Regions from separate parts of the Homo sapiens genome. Here region 2 is linked to region 1. Evidence: fine-mapped expression QTL. A gene starts in region 1. The other region holds a variant in brackets. All regions are shown on one strand. Distances are from middle to middle.

The links. PIP is the estimated chance that this variant, and not a neighbour inherited with it, causes the effect.
Region 2: its variant is the best candidate, but not a certain one, in a credible set for the expression of MYBPH in whole blood (TOPMed, PIP 0.66).

The regions. Positions count from the first base shown.
Region 1 is chr1:203,173,727-203,179,095 of GRCh38, reverse strand. It overlaps MYBPH (myosin binding protein H), which reads left to right and starts at 3,270. Exons shown (of 11, transcript NM_004997.3): 1 at 3,270-3,545; 2 at 3,635-3,769; 3 at 4,499-4,666. The coding sequence starts at 3,341. It overlaps CHI3L1 (chitinase 3 like 1), which reads left to right. Exons shown (of 10, transcript NM_001276.4): 10 at 1-165. RefSeq lists enhancers at 489-1,688, 4,606-5,135.
Region 2 is chr1:203,219,123-203,224,491 of GRCh38, reverse strand. CHIT1 (chitinase 1) reads left to right here. Exons shown (of 11, transcript NM_003465.3): 5 at 832-997; 6 at 1,233-1,357; 7 at 2,167-2,290; 8 at 4,643-4,828; 9 at 5,163-5,276. Among named protein-coding and RNA genes, the nearest start is that of CHIT1, 7.9 kb to the left of the region's middle. The variant G/C (reference allele first, on the strand shown) is at 2,358.

The DNA.
Region 1 (5,369 bases):
TATCACCAAGGAGCCAAACATCCTACAAGACACAGTGACCATACTAATTATACCCCCTGCAAAGCCCAGCTTGAAACCTTCACTTAGGAACGTAATCGTGTCCCCTATCCTACTTCCCCTTCCTAATTCCACAGCTGCTCAATAAAGTACAAGAGCTTAACAGTGTGTTGGCGCTTTGCTTTGGTCTATCTTTGAGCGCCCACTAGACCCACTGGACTCACCTCCCCCATCTCTTCTGGGTTCCTTCCTCTGAGCCTTGGGACCCCTGAGCTTGCAGAGATGAGGCCGCCATGTCCTCTGCCTAGCCGCAGAGAGCCCCAGTGGGAGGCCAGCGTCCTCAGATTCACCTGCCTTGGACTTAACCCAAGCATGGCTGATGGCCTTCCAAATATTAAAGTCATTGCCATCCAGATTTCTAAATTAAATTCCCTGTTGAAAGAAACGTTTTCTGTTTCCTGAAGGCTAGCAGGCCCTGGGAAAGAAGGCTTTTCATCCCAACACTCCCTCTCTTCTGATCCACAGGAAGGTGGTGGGAGCTCATCACAGGACCAGGTTAGAAAGCCCTGAACCCTGGACCCTCAGGGCCAGCAGGAAATGCAGATGTCATCTCATGCACCCTTCCTGCCTCTCGGGACTGGAGTCCCTGCAGAGTGCTTGAGAGATGGCCCTCCAGCCTCCCAGTGAGGGGCAGCCGATTACCTTGGAAGCAACCCATTCCGTGGCTGGGCTGAAATCTGTCAATAGTCCTAGTGCTGGGCTTAGCCCTTTGTTCTGTTCACCCCTCCCCTAACACTCATCCCTCCACCCATTCAGAGATCAAAGTACCTCTGCTCAAGCTGGCCTGAGATAGGAGGTCGGGAGGATGTGATGGGGTGACTCAGAAGAATAGACAGATTTTCAGCCTTTATGAGGTGGAGACGCTCTCATCAGGCTTCTGTTGAATTCCCAGGGCCCCAGGAATGCCTTTATCCAAAAAGGCTCCAGATACTCACCCCAGAACTAAAGAGAATTGATTTGTGGATTCTCTGATGTTTGGATTATCTGTGACTTAGGATAATCACAAATTGGCCTGATGGTTTGTGACGCCGGTTTGAAGTGGAGGGAAGGAGGAAATATCTGAAATCTGAACCAGCTGGAGCTGGGCAGATGCTACTGATCCCAAGGTCACAGCCCTGCTGAAGGCGAAGAAAACAAGGACTCGGCAAGGCGTGGAGTGGGGTGTGGGGAGGGGGTACCCGGCATTTCACCTCTGGCTGGTGGGGCCAAGTATTCCCTAATCCCTGCCACTGCCCACCCCACCACACAGGCATCTTTGAAACCCCAGGGCTGCAAGCCCTTGTGGGCAGCCAACTGCCCTCCCCTGGGGCCACCCTTCCCCCAGCCGGGGACAGGCTCTCCAGGGCTGACTCAGTGTCCTGTGGGGTTAGTCACATTCACTTATAGCTGCAGAGTCAGAGGCCAAGGATGGAGATCCAGTCTCCAGGACCCACTCCCTGCCTGGCAAGACGTGGAGTCACCTAGCAGAGGGCGAGGGCATCCAGGGAGGGCCAGATCCAGAGGCTCCCAGGCCCTGCACTGCCACTCCCCAGCAGAGACAGCAGGGTTGAGAGGCAGCCACACCCTGGTGTCCCCAGTCCTCAGGAAAGGGAAGAGCATGCATGCTGCTGAGGGCCCTGAATAAATCACTTTTACTTATTTTTAAATTGTGAGCACATCTTACGTGCTAAAGAGTGCATAAATGTATTTGTTTAATTTGAAGAATAACTATGTAGTAAGAACCTGTGTAACCACCACCCAGGTCAGGAAAGGAAACCTCATTAGCACCCCTGCAGCCCTCACGATCACAGATATCCCTGTTCCTCCACCTAGAGGCAATCGCCATCCTAACTTTTGTACTGGCCTCATCTTCCTTTCTGGCCTTACCGCCTACGGATGTACCTTGAAGAAGGGAGCCTGGTGTTGACTGCATTTGGATTTAATGTAGATGAGACAGATGAGACGCAACATTTCTGTGTGCCTTGCTCTTCTGCTCATCACTGGGTCTGTGAGTAGCTGAAGTTGCTCATTTGACCCCATATTTTGCTTTACAGTTGCATAAACACTCCACAGTTATTTATCCATCCCACTGTTGAGGGACAGCTGTTTTCCCCCACATTTCAACAATTACAAATAACATTGCCATGAACCTTCTTCTCCATGTCTCCTGGGGCATGTGTGGGTGTTATATGAGCGGCACGGCTGGGTCACGGAGTAGGCACCTCATCCATTTTACTAGGCACTAGTAAAACTCTCACATTTTCCAGAGTGACTGCTCCAATACCAGCAATAAAAGTTCTTAATGTTCTCCCTCCTTCCTGACACATGGCATTTTCTGGCTTTCCAGTGATTCCCAGTCTTAACATTTTATCGAACAAATGAATCAATGACTAGAAATCTGGCCATATCTGCCTCCTTTGGCACACTGAGAAAGCCCATGCCCACAGCCTGCTTGGAAGAGTCTAGAAGCTTCAGAGTGCTCTCCTCCACTAGGGCATCTTCCAGATCTGCCTACAACTGCAACCCATCCCGAAGGGCGAGGGGTTCTCTGTAACAGGTGGAAAACTGAGGCCCACAGCAGGCATCAGGGGAGACGAGCTCCTTACCAGCCGCCCAACTGAGACAGGAGCCAGGAGACTTAGTGCCCCTTCCTGGGGTTCCAATGCTGGAGGACCATCCTCTGAGCAGCTCCACCCTCAGCATCTCAATTCCCTCCCTCTCTAGGGCCCTCAGCCTCATACAGCACAGGCGAGAGTCCCTGGGAACTGTGGGAGCCCAGGGAATGTGGACCCCAGAGGCAAAGCTGGGAGTGCTCACAAGGACGATTGTCCCAAACTGTCAGGGCCCCAGCACCCAGTCTGAGAAGCTCTGGGAACAAGTGGCCCCATAGACGCCAGACACACAGAGCCTGAGCTGGGCTCATTCTCCAGATAGAAGTTCTTCCTCCTATTGCCCTGACACCTGGCACGCGGCCTGCTCGATGTCCCATCTCACCCATCTGCGCCCTCCCCCAGCTGGGCACCAGCACCCTGGCTGTTGAAGGCCAGTCGGGGAGATGGATGAGGAAGTGACTCCTCAAGGGGCCCTTGTGGTTCCTCCCCCAGAGCTATTCCTGGCCTGGGCGCCTCTCCACCCTCCAGTCCTCCTGCTTGACCTGACCCCACAGCTGGGAATCGTTTGCTGGGGGTGGGGCAGCCCCTGACTATATAAGCCTGGACCTAGGTGTCCCAGGCACCCTAGAGGCCCAGGCCCCCCAACGGCTGACCCCTGCACACTCCACCCTGGCCCCCCAGCCAGTCCAGCAATGATGGAAAAAAACACCTCCGAGGGCCCTGCCTGCAGTCCAGAGGAGACCGCATCTGAATCTGCCAAGGTGCCCACAGCAGAGCCTCCCGGAGAAGTGGCAGTATCAGAGTCCACCAGAGAAGAGCAGGTGCCCAAGCCGCAGGCCCCTGCCCCACAGGCCCCTACAGCCTCCACAGCCACTAAGCCTGCACCCCCAAGTGAAGGTGACTGAAGGTGGGGCAGGGGGAGGAGGGAGGCAGGCATGTCAGGGGTGGAGGGGAGCTCTTGGCCATGAACCTCTTCATCTCCCCAGATGTCCCCAGTGCCCCACTGCTGCTGACCCTGGATGATGTGAGCAGCAGCTCTGTGACTGTGAGCTGGGAGCCCCCAGAGAGGCTGGGGAGGCTGGGCCTCCAGGGCTATGTGCTGGAGCTCTGCAGAGAGGGAGGTGAGTGCTGGGCTAAGTCTTGCATACACCCAGGGGAGGTTGTCATGGAGGGCTGCAGGGACAAGTGCACAGGCCCTGTGGTTGGTCAGTCTGGGAGAGATACAGAAGGAGGGGATGCGAGCAGTAGGCTCCTCAACCCACCCACCTGCCCTTTCTTGCTCCACCAGCAGGAGAGCAAGAAAGGGTAGGTGGGTGGGTTGAGGGGCTCCCTTGTCCTCAGCTCCAAGGAGCTTCTGAGTAAGGGAAGGGTAAGGGGACACTGGGTTCTCCTTTGGTGAGAAGGGAAGGAAGTGCTAAGTCTCAGAGGACCCCGAACTGTAGGAAGTGGAAAGGGAGGAGCTGGAGAGGGGAATGTTAGCGTAAGAGACAGTGAGGAGAAAGCGGGAATGGGGTGGGGGTGTGGGGGCCACATCCCTGCTGCCACTGTCCCCCTCCATGGCCCAAGTCCAGCCTGGCCTCTGCCTCTGCCCCTACCTTGCTGTGTGACTTTGCAAATGTGTCCAACCCTCTCTGGGCTTCAACAACCTCATCTCTAGCCACAATTTCAGGGCTCTAACATCAGGTGTCTTTGATGCCATTTGACAAGAAGTCAGGGAAGGCAAACAAGGGGAAAATGAGGCCCAGAGAGGGAGGCTGATTTCCCCAGATCACCAGCAGGAAAAGAAGCCCCATGGAGAGGGGCGCCTGTGGCCACATTGCAAAGACCTCACACTCTCTCCATCCCCTCAGCCTCGGAGTGGGTGCCTGTGAGTGCCCGGCCCATGATGGTGACCCAGCAGACTGTGCGGAACCTGGCTCTGGGAGACAAGTTCCTCCTGCGCGTGTCTGCAGTGAGTTCTGCAGGGGCTGGCCCGCCGGCCATGCTGGACCAGCCCATCCACATCCGAGAGAACATTGGTAAAGCCCATCCTGGCCTTCAGCTACCCAGCCCTTCCCAAACACCTTATCTAATGGAGAAACTGAGGCCAGCAGGTAGAGGGAACCAGGCAGTCATTTCCCCCGTCCCACGCTCACATGCACAAGCCACACGCTATCACCATCTTGCCTTAAGAAAGTTCCAGGTTCCTCAGCAGTAAGGGGCCTCTGGAGGTCTAAGAAGCCATTTCCCTGAGTGGTCCAGCCCCCACGCCTTGAGAAAGGGGCTCAGAAACAAAAGGTCAAGTTCCCTGGGTCACCTGCTCAATGCTAAGAGTCCATCTGTTCTATCTCCCATCTAATCTCAATCTCTCCAGTGGCCATAAATGCTCATTTTCTGCCCATTTCCTGTGGCCTGGGTTCCAGATTCTCTCAAAGGTCTTGAAACAGAGAGAAGGCGCTGCTTGCCCCTTGTTCCACCATGGCCCTAGTGGAAAGAAAAAGAAGGTCTGCAAAAGGCCCATGAAGACTTCTCCATTGCAGAGGGCATACCTCACTGGGGCCCCGCAGGCCAGCTGCCATCCCCATTGCTAATATTTCTATTTGCAAGGTGCATTAGCCTCAATCCTCCCCTCGCTCCCCTCCCGGAGCTGATCGGGTTTCAGTCTGTTAATGACAGTGAGTCATTTGGTCTGATCTGAGGTCTCTGGGGACAGCACAGTCCCCCAGGGTGAGGAGAGACACA
Region 2 (5,369 bases), 45 kb before region 1:
GTCTTTCTAAAACTTTTTTGGATCATGAACCCTTTTGGGAATCTGATGAAAGTGATTACTCATCTTCCAAAATAATGCTTATATACAGACTGTTTATTGAAATGCAGCAGGAGTTTTTAGCCTGGTGTCCTCGGACTAAATTAATAAAAATAAAATAGGATCAATCTGTAAAGAACTTGAGACCCCCTCAAGAAGTTCAGGGACTTCCCACTAAGGAAGGAAGATGTGGAGAGGTGGTTCTTGGGGCAGCTTGGGGATTTTGACGAACTCTGGACTAGTAACAGCAACAAAAACACAAAGCGCTCTACGGGTGTGAGTTAAAAGAAAGATGACCAGGTTAACCTGCCAGGAAACTAAAACAGTGGGCTCCCCAGGTCTTTACTAACCTTAGTAAAGGAATTAGAGAAATTCTAATTAGAGAAAAATCTTACTTAAAGAAAAACCTTACAAGAGGAATTAGAGAAACTAATTCCTTTTCTTTTCAAACCTCCATTCTGAGGGTGTCAACTAGTTCTGGTTTGGGGTGGGACAATTCAAGGGCTTGGAGGAAGCCTCTGGAGGGAATTTTGGGAAAGGCTCCTAGGGTGTCCATGTGCCCCTGGTGATGTCGATGTTCGGGGGTAGAAAGTGCTCTGGATGGTCCCCTTTCCTCAACCCGGACCATAACTCACCAGCAAATATCCCTGCAGCCTCTGAAGCAGCCCTCCCAGTGCCCCTCCTAGCCCAGACACAGAGACGCACTGTCCTGAGTGTTTTCTTGCCTGCTTCTGAGTAAGAGTGGCCTCCTGTCTGGTCCAAGGCCGGCCCTTACTCCCCTTCATCACCTCACAGGTTCACAGATATGGTAGCCACGGCCAACAACCGTCAGACCTTTGTCAACTCGGCCATCAGGTTTCTGCGCAAATACAGCTTTGACGGCCTTGACCTTGACTGGGAGTACCCAGGAAGCCAGGGGAGCCCTGCCGTAGACAAGGAGCGCTTCACAACCCTGGTACAGGTATGGCTGGGCGGGGCGGGGATCACCAGTCTGTGCAGGGACCCAGAGCTGGAGCCCCCACAGCACATGTGGGGGCTGCTCTGCCCCCAGAGCCAGCTGCTTCACGTATCTGCATGGCACAGATCAGCCCTGTGGCCAGCTCTCAGACTTCTACAAGTGAACATCTACCTGGGGCTCACAGGGGCTGCCTGCCTGGTGCGCGCCCCTGTGTTGACTCTGAGCTCCACTCCCACAGGACTTGGCCAATGCCTTCCAGCAGGAAGCCCAGACCTCAGGGAAGGAACGCCTTCTTCTGAGTGCAGCGGTTCCAGCTGGGCAGACCTATGTGGATGCTGGATACGAGGTGGACAAAATCGCCCAGTGAGTCTCAGGCAGATGGCTTGGAGCTGTGCTCTCTGAGGGAAGAGAGGCCAAGGGCAGACTGAGCTTTCCCATGGGTAGAGCAGGTGTTCATCTACAAGGCATTTGGAAAGTCCCATCCTTACACCAGAACAAAAGCAGAAAATTCCCTGCTTTTGTACTCAGGGTAAAACTAAGACACATCCAGAAAGGCTTTGCTCAGTGTCCACTGCTGCCCTGTTCCAGATCCTTCATTTTGGATCTCTGTCCTCTTCCTCGGGAACTCATTCTTAAGGTGAAAATGCCTCTGAGTGGGTAGTGAAGCCATTGTCTTCAAGAAAATGGGTTTTCTGGATCCTTGCTCCTCAAAGTACAGCATGTGGACTCGCAGCCCTCATTAAAACCAGGTGCTCATTAGAATTATGGACTCTCAGGCCCCACCCCAGGCCTTCTGAAGAACCTTCATTTTAGTGAGATTCCCAGGTGATCTGTGTGCACACTGAAGTGGGAGAAACCCTAAGCTAGAGTTCCCTCCAGAATAGCAATGTAGCAGGAGTTTTCTTGAGTGGAATAGGGAGGGCCTGGGGGTGCTGAGGGGACAGTGGGGTGAGGGTGACAAGTTTGAGTGAGAATGAGAATGGCCTTCATAAGGGGGCTGGCTGGGACTGCTGTCTGGGTCACCTTCTGCAGAGCCAGGTGAGCCTGCCACCTTTGCCTCTGACCCCAGTGGTTCCTCCCTAGGCCATGCACTGAGGGGGTAGGAGTGAGAAAGAAGGGCTACCCCACCCCCAATCCCTTGTTTCTCACCTCCTCTTCCATGCCTCCTGCAGGAACCTGGATTTTGTCAACCTTATGGCCTACGACTTCCATGGCTCTTGGGAGAAGGTCACGGGACATAACAGCCCCCTCTACAAGAGGCAAGAAGAGAGTGGTGCAGCAGCCAGCCTCAACGTGGTACGTGTGGCAGGAGGGCTGAGGCAGGACTCCCCTGTCCAGCAGGCCCTGTTTGGTGGCTTCTTTT[G/C]AGCCCCGAGGCCCTCATGGGAAAAAAGACACAGGGCACTGAGAAACAAGAAGCTTTTTTGTTTCTTTGCTTGCTTGTTTTGTTCTATTTTCCTGGTCCGTGCCCCTGCTGAGGGGAAACCTCACTTCTGTGGAGCATCTTGGCTGATGGTAGAGGCAGCAAATCAGTTTGATGACAAACAAGTGACCAATGGGGAAGCCCACTTTGAGCTTGAGTCTCCAGCCAGCAGGCCTGCTGCTTCCCTCACACACCCCCACCCCATTTCCTTCAAGACAGTGGGCAGACTTGTGCTCCATGGTCACACTGGTTGACCTTCTGGAAGGTCCTTTCAGGGACAGGAGCTTTCCCAAGTTGATAACATCTCTGCAGATGTCACTCAGGGTGGAAGTACTCCCAGCACCTGCAAAGGGCAGGCTTGGTTTTTAGACTAGGGTAGGTTGGGGTTTCCTAACTTTTCCTCATTGAGCAATCAAGACACTTTTAATTTTTTTTAATTTTATATATTTATTCTTAAGAGACAGAATCTTGTTCTGTCACCAAGGAGGGTATGCAGTGGCATGATCATAGCTCACTGCAGCTTCATCCTCCCAGGCTTAAGCGATCCTCCTGCCCCAGCCTCCTGAGTAACTGGGATCACTATGACCAGCTAATTTTTTTTAAGTTTGTAGAGATGGAGTCTTGCTATATTGCCCAGGATGGTCTCAAACTCCTGCCCTCAATCAATCCTCCTGGCTCAGCCTCCCAAAGTGTTGGAATTATAGGCACAAGCCAACATGCCCAGCCTAGATCCTTTTTATAAGCCCTCTATATATCTTAAAATATAGAGAGGGTTTATAAAACCCTGCAGAGAGGGCTTATAATAACTACATTATTTTTCTTTCTTAAAACAAGCAAAACCAAACAACAAAGAAAAAGCCCTAAATTAAAATGCTTTTTACTTTTGGAGAGCCCACATCTCTGTATGTCAGCTGGAGTGGGACATCTTTGATTTTCTGGCTCTTTCATGAATAAAGAGCACCTCTTTGAGCCAGTGAGCCAGGCACCCACATTTCACACTGAGCCTGGCCTCTCCATCCCTGTCTGGAAGACTGTGTGAGTTTTGGAGGAAGCTGTATCCCTGTGCTGGTGGGGAGACACAGAAAGAAATTTAGCTGAGAGGTGAGTGGGGTGGGAGTCCCTCCAGCACCCTGCTTTCCACATTGTGTACCTTGAATCCACCGAGGAATGGAGGCCATCTTATTCCTACAAAGAGGCCTTCTACTCACCACACAGTGTGCCCGGGGACAGGTTCTAACCAGATGGGTGACTTTTCCCAACTTGCACAAAAGTGCTATAACAGATCAGGAGAAGCCCCGACTTCTGCCTTCAGAAAGCACCCATCTGATCAAAGATAAGTTGTATAGATGGACAAAAAGAAATATATTTAAATAAATGTAGTGAAAGCTGTTCTTTACCTAAGTGCTAAGTGGGCTCAGAGTAACTAGACCTGACAAAACTAGGGCAGCTTCTGGGGGAAAGTGAACCATACTCTTGGCTTAAGGAATGAGGCTTCATTATTCATTAATTTATCATACTTGTACCGGGTACCTTCTCCCGTCACAGGCCTGGGGGTGTTACACCAAGTAATATATAATCAGGGGAAGGCCTTATTCAAAGGTGGGTAAGGAAGCCTTTGTTCTATCTGAGCATCAGGTGTCATTCTAGACACTGAGGATACAGAGATAAATAAAGCAGACCCAATTCCCTGCTTTTGTACTCAGGGTAAAACTAAGACAACAATCATGATAACGATGATGACCACAGCGACCCTTTATTGCGTTGTGCTGACCTTTTACATGCATTATAACCTTTAATTCTCACAATGCCCTAAGAGATGGATATTTTCCTTATTTCCATGTTACAGACAGAACACCAAGGTTCAGTGAGGTTAAATAAGCTGCTGGGTAAGGCAGGGATCTGTGTCTGCCTTGTTCACTGATGTGTCTGAAGCACCATGGACAGCGCCTGGCACACAGTGGGCCATCAGTACACATTTGTTCAGTGAATGGTTGTCTGCGTCCGAAGCCCACGCTCTCTGGTTATCATGCCATGCAGCTTCTTCACTGGGGTCACGGGTCTAAGGCAGGCTCTAAAGAAGATGGGGTAGGGCTGGAATCCTAACAAAGGCCCGTAGAGCTCCAGCTGAGGAGCCCCTGCCCTCCTAGCTCTGCCTCTGGATCCCCCAGACTTAGATAATCAGAACCAGGCTGAGGGCTGAGAAAATTAACCCTGCCCTCTTCCACCAGGATGCTGCTGTGCAACAGTGGCTGCAGAAGGGGACCCCTGCCAGCAAGCTGATCCTTGGCATGCCTACCTACGGACGCTCCTTCACACTGGCCTCCTCATCAGACACCAGAGTGGGGGCCCCAGCCACAGGGTCTGGCACTCCAGGCCCCTTCACCAAGGAAGGAGGGATGCTGGCCTACTATGAAGTAGGAAAACCCATAACCACCCTGGGTATTGTGAGGGTCAGGGGGTGCCTGAGAGAACAGAGGTTTCCTTCTCCCACCGTTTCTGAGTAAGGATGCCAATTGCAGAGAATTCTGGCCATGTAAATTCCATCTCATCCATGCCATCTTGAATTTATCCTTAAGCCCAGGTGCCTCAAGCTGAGTCCAGAATTCTAGGTCACTGCAAAGAACCTCCTGATTCTCCAGGCTTCCTCAGACAGGAATTTTCCAATCTCTAGTCTCCTCCTGGTGAGGAAGGGAAGGTGCCTGCAAGAGCCTCCCTCCTCCTCCCCAGTGCTGCCTTCTGCTCCCACAGGTCTGCTCCTGGAAGGGGGCCACCAAACAGAGAATCCAGGATCAGAAGGTGCCCTACATCTTCCGGGACAACCAGTGGGTGGGCTTTGATGATGTGGAGAGCTTCAAAACCAAGGTGAGGCCCAGCTCTGCTGGCAGAGGGGTGGTCCTAGTGAACAAGTCCTGTCAATGACATGGAATGAGGACAGTTCAGGACCTCAAGGGTGAG